Linked DNA regions of Homo sapiens. The protein of the gene in region 2 interacts with the protein of the main gene of each other region in a pairwise test. Each region holds a gene or a part of one and is shown on either strand. Other genes may lie near its edges.

Region 1 (4,154 bases), on a different chromosome or scaffold from region 2:
GCCTCAGCCTCCCGAGTAACTGGGATTACAGGCACGCACCACCATGCCCAGCTAATTTTTGTATTTTTAGTAGAGCCAGGATTCCACCATGTTAGCCATGATGGTCTCGATCTCCTGAGCTCGTGATCTGTCCACCTTGGCTTCCCAAAGTGGTGGGATGACAGGCGTGAGCCATGGCGCCCGGCTTTTTTTTTCCTTTTAAAAAAGTGTTTGGCTGGGAGAAGTGGTTCACACCTGTAATCCCAACACTTTGGGAGGCCGAGGCAGGAGGATCACTTGAGCCCAGGACTTCAAGACCTGCCTGGGCAACATAGTAAGACCCCATCTCCAAAAAAAAAAAAAAAAAGTAAATTAGCCAGGCGTGGTGCTGCACACCTGTGGTCCCAGCTACTTGGGAGGCTGAGGTGGGAGGATCACCTGAGCCGAGGAGTATGAGGCTGCAGTGAGCCATGATCATGCCACTGGATTCCAGCCTGGGTGACAAAGTGAGACCCTGTCTCAGAAAAAAAAAAAAAGGCTGGGGGGCCTGGGCTAGGATTATGCCTGTAATCCTAGCACTTTTGCAGGTAGATTGCTTGAGCTCGGAGTTCGATACCAGCCTGGCAACATGGCAAAACCTGGTCTCTACAAAAAACATAAAAAATAGCTGGGCGTGGTCTGTAGCTGTAGTCCCAGCTACTCAGGTGGCTGAGGTAGGAGGATCACCTTAGCCCGAGGATGTTGAGGCCACAATAAGCTGTGGTCATACCACTGCACACCAGCCTGGACAACAGAATGAGACCCCATCTCAAAAAAAAAAGTTTTTTATTTTGAAATAATTTTAGGTTTAGAGAAAAGTTGAAAAATAGTAAAACAACAACAACAACAAAAAAACAACAAAAAATCCCAAAACCCCCAAAACTCTCATTGACCCTTATCTCAGATTTCCCGAATGCTTACCACCCTCGCTACATCATTCAAGTTCTTGGAAACATTTAAAGCATGTGAAACATTTAAAACATTTAAGTTGGAGGCTTTAAGTTGCACGTCCTTTATTTCTAAATATTTCAGTGTGTTTTTCTTAAAAAAAATTTTCTCATACCACAGTAACATGATCAAAATTGGAAAATCAACATTGATTCAATACTATGATCTACAATCAAGGTTTTTTTTTTTTTTCAAATCCCTGGGTCTCTGCATTTTTTAAAAGCTTCACAGATGATTTCAATGGATACTAGGGACCTCTGTTGCCTCCTCTGGCAGAGCAGGACTGAGGGGTGGACCCTCCCTGAGACCACCCAACAATTCAGGGTGGAGTTATCAGGGCGCCCTGACTCCTGGGGGCATTTTTGTGTGACGGGAAAAGACAATGCTCCTGGCTGAGTGAGATGGCAGCTGGCTTGGCAAGGGGACAGCACCTTTGTCACCACATTATGTCCCTGTACCCTACATGCTGCGCCTATACCCAGGACCGATGGTAACTGAGGCGGAGGGGAAAGGAGGGCCTGAGATGGCAAGTCTGTCCTCCTCGGTGGTTCCTGTGTCCTTCATTTCCACTCTGCGAGAGTCTGTGCTGGACCCTGGAGTTGGTGGAGAAGGAGCCAGTGACAAGCAGAGGAGCAAACTGTCTTTATCACACTCCATGATCCCAGCTGCTAAAATCCACACTGAGCTCTGCTTACCAGCCTTCTTCTCTCCTGCTGGAACCCAGAGGAGGTTCCAGCAGCCTCAGCACCACCTGACACTGGTAAGAAATGCAGATGATCAGGCCTTACCCCAGACCTATTGAATCAGAAATTCTGGAGTGGTGCCCTGCAGCTTGCATTTTAACCAGCCTTCAGGTGCTTCTGATGCATGCTCAGGTTTGAGCACCACTGGCCACAGGGAGGCCTAGGCAATTCAGCCTTCCTCTGGTTGAATAGCTGGAGAATTGGGAATATCAGTAAATACTTCCAATGCACCTGCTACATGCCAGAAAAAGGAAACAAGAAGACGCAGTAGGTCTGAGAAAGTGATGGGGTGAGCAGAAACCCAAAGCTTATAGAAGGCCATCTGAGTGGCCCCTCAAGCCGGTGAATTGGCTTTAGGGTTTACTGAAGGAGGTGGAAACCTCAGCCTGCTTCTCGTCCGGGTTGTTAGAGGAGTCATTTAGAAAGCTGTACCATTCTTTCAATATTCTCACGGCTTTCCAGTGCTCATTTTTCCTGCTCATTTATGGATTAAAAAAAATGCCTTGGCTGTATGTGTAAGAAAACAACAATGCAAGTTTGTAGAGAAAGAATCTGGGCCTTACAGGTCACGTTGGTTTAAAATTTAGACATCAAGCAGCTTAGAGACCATGTTGCCAAATAAGCTTAGTAAATGCTTTCTAATGCTTACGGAACTGTGGCGCTTTGTGCTTGCCATAGTATATATAATTAGACAAATGAGAGAACACAAAGGTTGAACCCCTTCCCTCTCTTAATTTTTGTTTTTTACAAGCAGATTTAAAATTCTGGCTCATAATGTCCTTGATTCAATGTTAAACCATTTTGCCTAAATGGCAGCATGTTCTAAATGTGAGCGCGCTCAGCTTTTCAAGCTGCTCCCGAGTGACAGAAATTGACAAGCTGTCATTCAAGACCTTTCGGTGGCTGCCTGGGGCTCTGTTTGAATTGTATCTGTCTGATACTTTACCATGGAGAGTGAAAAATTTGATCACATGCCATGCTTTTAATTTTCTAAAGCAAATATGTTGGAAGGAGCCAATTAATGCAAAGATGGACTGCTGGTCTCATGCAACTGATTTAGGGGAAGGGTTCGCCTAAATTAATAAAAGATCTGAATTATAGATCTTAACAAATACATAGAATGTAAAGGCTTAAAAGGAAACTGAGCAGCAGCAGGCCTGGGGTTGGCTTTTAAGTATCTATATTTAACTAATAGACATGAATGTTTTGATTTGATATTAGAAATGCTAGTGCTGGAGTCTCTGAGCCTACTCTGGCTCGAGAGGATGCCCTATCTAAAAAACAAAAAACAAAAAAAAAAAAGAAAAAAGAAAAAAAGAAATGCTGGTATTGTAATTCTAAAGTGCTTCAGAAATTCTCAAAAATAGGCCAGGCATGGTGGCTCATGGCTGTATACCAGCACTTTGGGAGGCCAAGGTGGGCAAATCACTTGCAGTCAGGAGTTTGAGACCAGCCTGGTCAACATGGTGAAACCCCATCTCTACTAAAAATACAGAAATTAGCCAGGCATGGTGGCAGCACCTGTAATCCCAGCTACTTGGGAGGCTGAGGCAGGAGAATCGCTAGAACCTGGGAGGTGGAGGTTGCAGTGAGCCAAGACCGCACCACTGCACTCCAGCCTGGGCAACAGAGTGAGACTCTATCTCAAAAAAAAAAAAAAAAAGTTCTCAAAAGTATTTTGAACTTCCTCACCTTTGTCCTATTTTGGAAGGAGGGGGTCTACATTGAAGAGATCATACAGAAATAAATTAATTGTTACAAAAGGAATGGAATGTCTATACTTCTTACCCTATTGAGTTACATTAACTGCATCTTCAACTTAATTTAAAGTGCTCCTCAACCTAAAATATCGTCATGTGTCTTTAAAAATGCATATTACTAAATCTATTTTTTTTTCAGTCTATCATCCACACTGCAGCAAGGTGATTCTGCCAAAACATATCTCCTTAAAAGCCAACTGGAGCTTCTCATCAGCATCAATGTGAAGCCAAAAATCCTTAGGAGGACAGAGGGAGTCCCTCACAACCTAGACTGGTCCCCTTCCCTCCAGCTGCCTCAACTGTCCACAGGACTCTCTTCCCACCTGCGGCCACACTGTGCAACCTGGAATTTCCCCACCTGGGCGGACTCATCACGTCATCACCAATTGGATGCATCTTCTGCTCTGTGCAGCTGGTGAAATCTTTCTCAACCCTTGAGATGCAGCCCAATCTTCTCCTAACATCTGGATTCCTCTCTGTCACTGCATTCCCTCCTGTCATCCTGCCTTTGTTTTCTTGCCCTCCTTTCTCTCCCGGGTGATAGGCATTAACTAAAATTAAATAAAAATTCAGATCATCCTTGCACTTGCTGCATTTCAAATGCTTGGCAGTCACATGTAGTTAGTGGCTACCCTCTTGGACAGCACAGATAGAGATTATTTCCATCACTGCAGAAAATTCTAGA
Region 2 (4,050 bases):
TGGAGGAGAGGATGGGCCTGTGGCTGCAGACAGACCTCATGTGACCCTGATCTCCCCTTTGCGTTTGTGTGACTCTGATTCAGTGACTGTGCCTTCCTGTGCCTCAGTTTTCTCTCAATCAGATAAGTTAAATGGCAAATGGACTGTGGCTTTTCATGCTATCTGTGAATAAATGTTAAATTATTCACAGTCACCTGACCTAATGCTTGGCACAGTGGAGGTGTTCACACAAGCAGCATTTATTATTAATTTGCTTCCATGAGAAAGCACCTTTACGTCAGATCCCTGTGGACAAGCTGCTACCAGGTACATCTTCTCTCTTCTGTTTCTGCTTCTGAGGACATTAGACTTTCTATGGACTGTCCTAAGCCTCCTAAGGCAGTTGGCTGATGACCTACAAAGCTTGTCTTTCTGTCCTCTCCACTCTGAGTGTCAGGTGAAGAAAGCTCTGTCCTTGCCCAGATGAGGCTCTGAGGGCTGAGCCCTGGCTGGTGAACAGCTCCAGGAGACACAGTCCTCAGACAGCTGGTAAATTCTTGGTCCCAGTAAGCCCTGCCCAAGAAGCCACAACCCAGCCCTGGAACAGGCTCCTCAGCTTTATCTGGAACAAGGATTTAGGTACAGAGTTCTGGGTTTGAGGCTTCTAGGGCTGAGCTTCTCTGAGAGTATCTCAGGGGCCCCTCAGGTCAAATTCTACTCAGTTCTCCAGGGTCTTTCTCAGGGTCAAATTTATGAAGAGGGCATGAGGTGCTTGGCTGAGACTGATCTCCTCCTGCTGAGTCCCCCCATCAGACTGTCCTTCCTCTGCAGCGAGTGTCTGCAGGGTCTGGATGCGGGAAAGGAATTCTGATCTGTTGAAATTTGTCTCCTCTGTGTGTGTCCTGCACTAAATGCCCAAACCCCAGCATGGGACATAATGCAGAGAGGGACACAGGCAATGTCCAGGCCTGACAATCCTGTGTGTGTGATGTAGAAGTGACCCCTGTCCCCCAACACCCAGGGATCATGTGGAATCACTTACGGTATAAGGTGAAGGTGAAATATCCAGTTACTCCTCTAGTCCCATCACCTCGCTTTATGATGTGTAAGGTGTAGGATCCTGCGTCCTCCCGGGTGACATTCTGGATCAGCAGGGATGCATTGGAATATACTGTTTCTCGTCCACTGTATGCCGGTCCATATATAATTATTTGACCGTCTACTACATATGATGTAATGTAATGGTAGAGGTCCCTGATTTGCCCTTTGTACCAGATGTAGCCAGTAAGATTCTGGGGCAAATTGTGGACAAGTAGAAGAACATCCTTCCCCTCGGACACTTTGGGTGGCTGGGCTTCAATCATGACTTGGGCAGTGGTAGGCAAGTTCCAGAAGTTTAAAAGTAATGCTAGGAGGTGGAGAGAGCATCAGTCAATATTGAGACCTATGTATTGGGGTGAAAAGATGGGGCCCTGAGTCCTGAGAAGGTCTCTTCAATCCTCAGCCTTGAAGACACACACACACACACACACACACATACAAACATACACACACAGAAAAGGGGCATGTGTGTTTGTGTATGTGTATGTGTGTGTGTTCTACTGTCCTACTAGGTCAAGGTCAGCAGCATGACCCCCATTCCTTCAACACTTCTGACCTTGGCATTTTTCTGTTTGGAATCCTCTTCCCCAGGGGTCCGCATGGCCCCCTCCACACTGCCCTCAGGTCCTGCTCACATCAGGGCATCCTTAGACTTCTTTCCTGACACCTCCTTCAGGGACTCTGGGTCTTCCCTTTCTGACCTTTCCCTGCTCTGCTCCCTCCAGGGTTCTTGTCAACACCTGACCTCACATTCTAGATCTCTTTGCATGTCTGACTTCCTCCCCATGGCAGCATGAGCTCCGTGAGGACAGGGACTTTTGTGATCTTGGTTGCACCCCAGTGCCTGGAACAGGCTGCAGACTCCTGTAGATGTGAGAGTTCTCAGGGCCGTCCACGCCCTGGGTGTTTTTTTTTTTTTCCCCAATTGTTGAGGTTTTTTATTGAGGACAGTGTTTCATGCCCTGTTTATTTTTATTTGTAGTGTCATCTGATATAGTTATTATTATCATTTTTCAAAATGTGGTGGCCCCTGATGATTAATCAGGAAAACAGAACACCTGTTTCCTACCTCTTACCAATTCCGGTTCAATGTGACTTTCCTGTTTTGACCCCTGTCCCTCTTGGGTGTATTTTCCCCTATCCAGGCATCAACAGGGCCTTCTTTCCTTTTTTTTTTTTTTTTTCTCTTTTTTTTTTTTTTTTTTTTTTTGAGATGGAGTCTCGTACTGTCACCCAGCCTGGCGTGCAGTGGCACTATCTCAGCTCACTGCAACTTCCGCCACCCTGGTTCACGTGATTCTCCTGCCTTGGCCTCCTGAGTAGCTAGGATTACAGGAGCACACCACCATACCTGGTTAATTTTTTGTACTTTTAGAAGAGACAGGGCTTCACTCTGTTGGCTGGACTGATCTTGAACTCCTGATCTCGTGATCCACCCACCTCAGCCTCCCTAAATGCTGGCTTTTTTATTTTTTAGAACCCCAGGAGCCTCTCCAGGAGACCCCATCCAGTCACTCTGCTTCCTCCTCCTGTCCTCTCCCAGGAAGTTCTCTCCTCACCTGTGAGCAGGAGCCCCTTCCATTTGATGTGCTCTGTGCAGGGAGGGGCTGAGAGGGGCCCCATGATCTCTGCTGCGTGCATGTTCTCCTCTGTGGAGATGAGCCTAGGATCCAGAAGCTTCCAGAGCACGGCTGTCAGCTGTGCTGTCCTTCCTCCTTCTGCGCTGAGACTCTTCCCGGTGGAAGGAGCACTTCTCAAGCTCATGGGCAGGGTCAGGCCGAGGACACCTCTCTGTCCCCTCCTCTCTCAGCCCTGCCTCCTTGTCCCTCCTTCTGTTTTTCCTTTTGTCTGTGTTTCAGGTCCCTGGGAATTGTGGAGGCCTCTGCCTTTTTCAGCAGTGATTCTTTCACCAAACCTCAATACACACTTTGTGCGGACACACACATACACACACACACAGAAGAGACACACACAGACCCACACAGTCAGACACATACCCTGCAGGTTGGGCAAGCAGAGTCCTGGGCCTCAGCCTCCTGCTGTCCCCATTGCTCTTGGTCGGGGTGCACATTCACACCCTTTGCCCTCTTTCATCCCCGTCTGGCTCTCCCCTTCAGTGCAGGAGGCTGGAGCTGCACCAGGTCCCTGTCAGAGTGACACCCCATTGTGCTGTGGGTGAGCTGTGTGTTGCCTGGTGAGAGGGACCCTTCTTTTCTCCAATCGTGTCTAGCTTGGCTGCAGCTTCCAAGGATGGACATTGAGGACCTGGGTTTCCCAGAGGAAACTGTCCTTCCTGGAGGTGTGCAGGGTGAATCTTTCATGCCTCCTGGGAGGAGAGGCCTGTGCTGGTTGCTCAGTGGGGGCTGTGAGTCCCATAGTCAAAGGGAAAGTTCTCGGTCACTCTGTGACTCCATGGGGTCTGGCAGCTGAGCTGGAGCTCTTGGTTTCTCATGTTCTTCCTGACAATCTTTGATGTCCTTTCTTCTCTGCCGAGCTGATTGTCCTGTGGTCACCACACCTTCCCCGTGGTGGTGCAGGAGGAAGTGGGGAGTTACCCAGGAATCCCGCGGGACATGACTTATTGAGACGCAGGAGGAGGAGCCTGGGACAGAGCAGGGGTTCAGAGCTGGAGAGATTCATCCCGACTTACTCCGTGGCCATGATGGGCTCAGCCCTCCATGTGCTGAGATACCCAGGGGTCTGTCCTGAGGGTTTTGACCTGGCCAAGCTGCTGTGTGTAGAGGAGGAACAGGCAGTGGCCAGAGATCCTGTCTGGAGGGACGTAGCTCACACCTGAGAGGGCGGGTGGGGGTGAGTTGTGTTCTGGGAGCAAAGAGCAATAACACCCCCCTTCTCCCCGCAAGCACACGGGAGACGTCTGTCTTCCCAAGAGACAGCTGGGGGTAGGTGGCCACATCCCGGATGGTGCCTGTGTGTGACCATCACACGCGCTCTGAGCCCTCCGGGGTT

The links. The genes of interacting proteins can lie anywhere in the genome.
Region 1: the proteins of PSG11 (region 2) and ARMS2 interact in a two-hybrid assay, tested with the Homo sapiens proteins (one study listed by IntAct).

The regions. Positions count from the first base shown.
Region 1 is NC_000010.11:122,453,299-122,457,452, forward strand, and holds ARMS2 (age-related maculopathy susceptibility protein 2), read left to right. Parts: upstream 1-1,354; 5' UTR 1,355-1,429; coding exon 1,430-1,726; intron 1,727-3,608; coding exon 3,609-3,635; 3' UTR 3,636-4,054; downstream 4,055-4,154.
Region 2 is NC_000019.10:43,023,670-43,027,719, forward strand, and holds the start of PSG11 (pregnancy-specific beta-1-glycoprotein 11 isoform 1 precursor), read right to left. Parts: upstream 2,801-4,050; 5' UTR 2,704-2,800; coding exon 2,640-2,703; intron 1,388-2,639; coding exon 1,022-1,387; intron 1-1,021.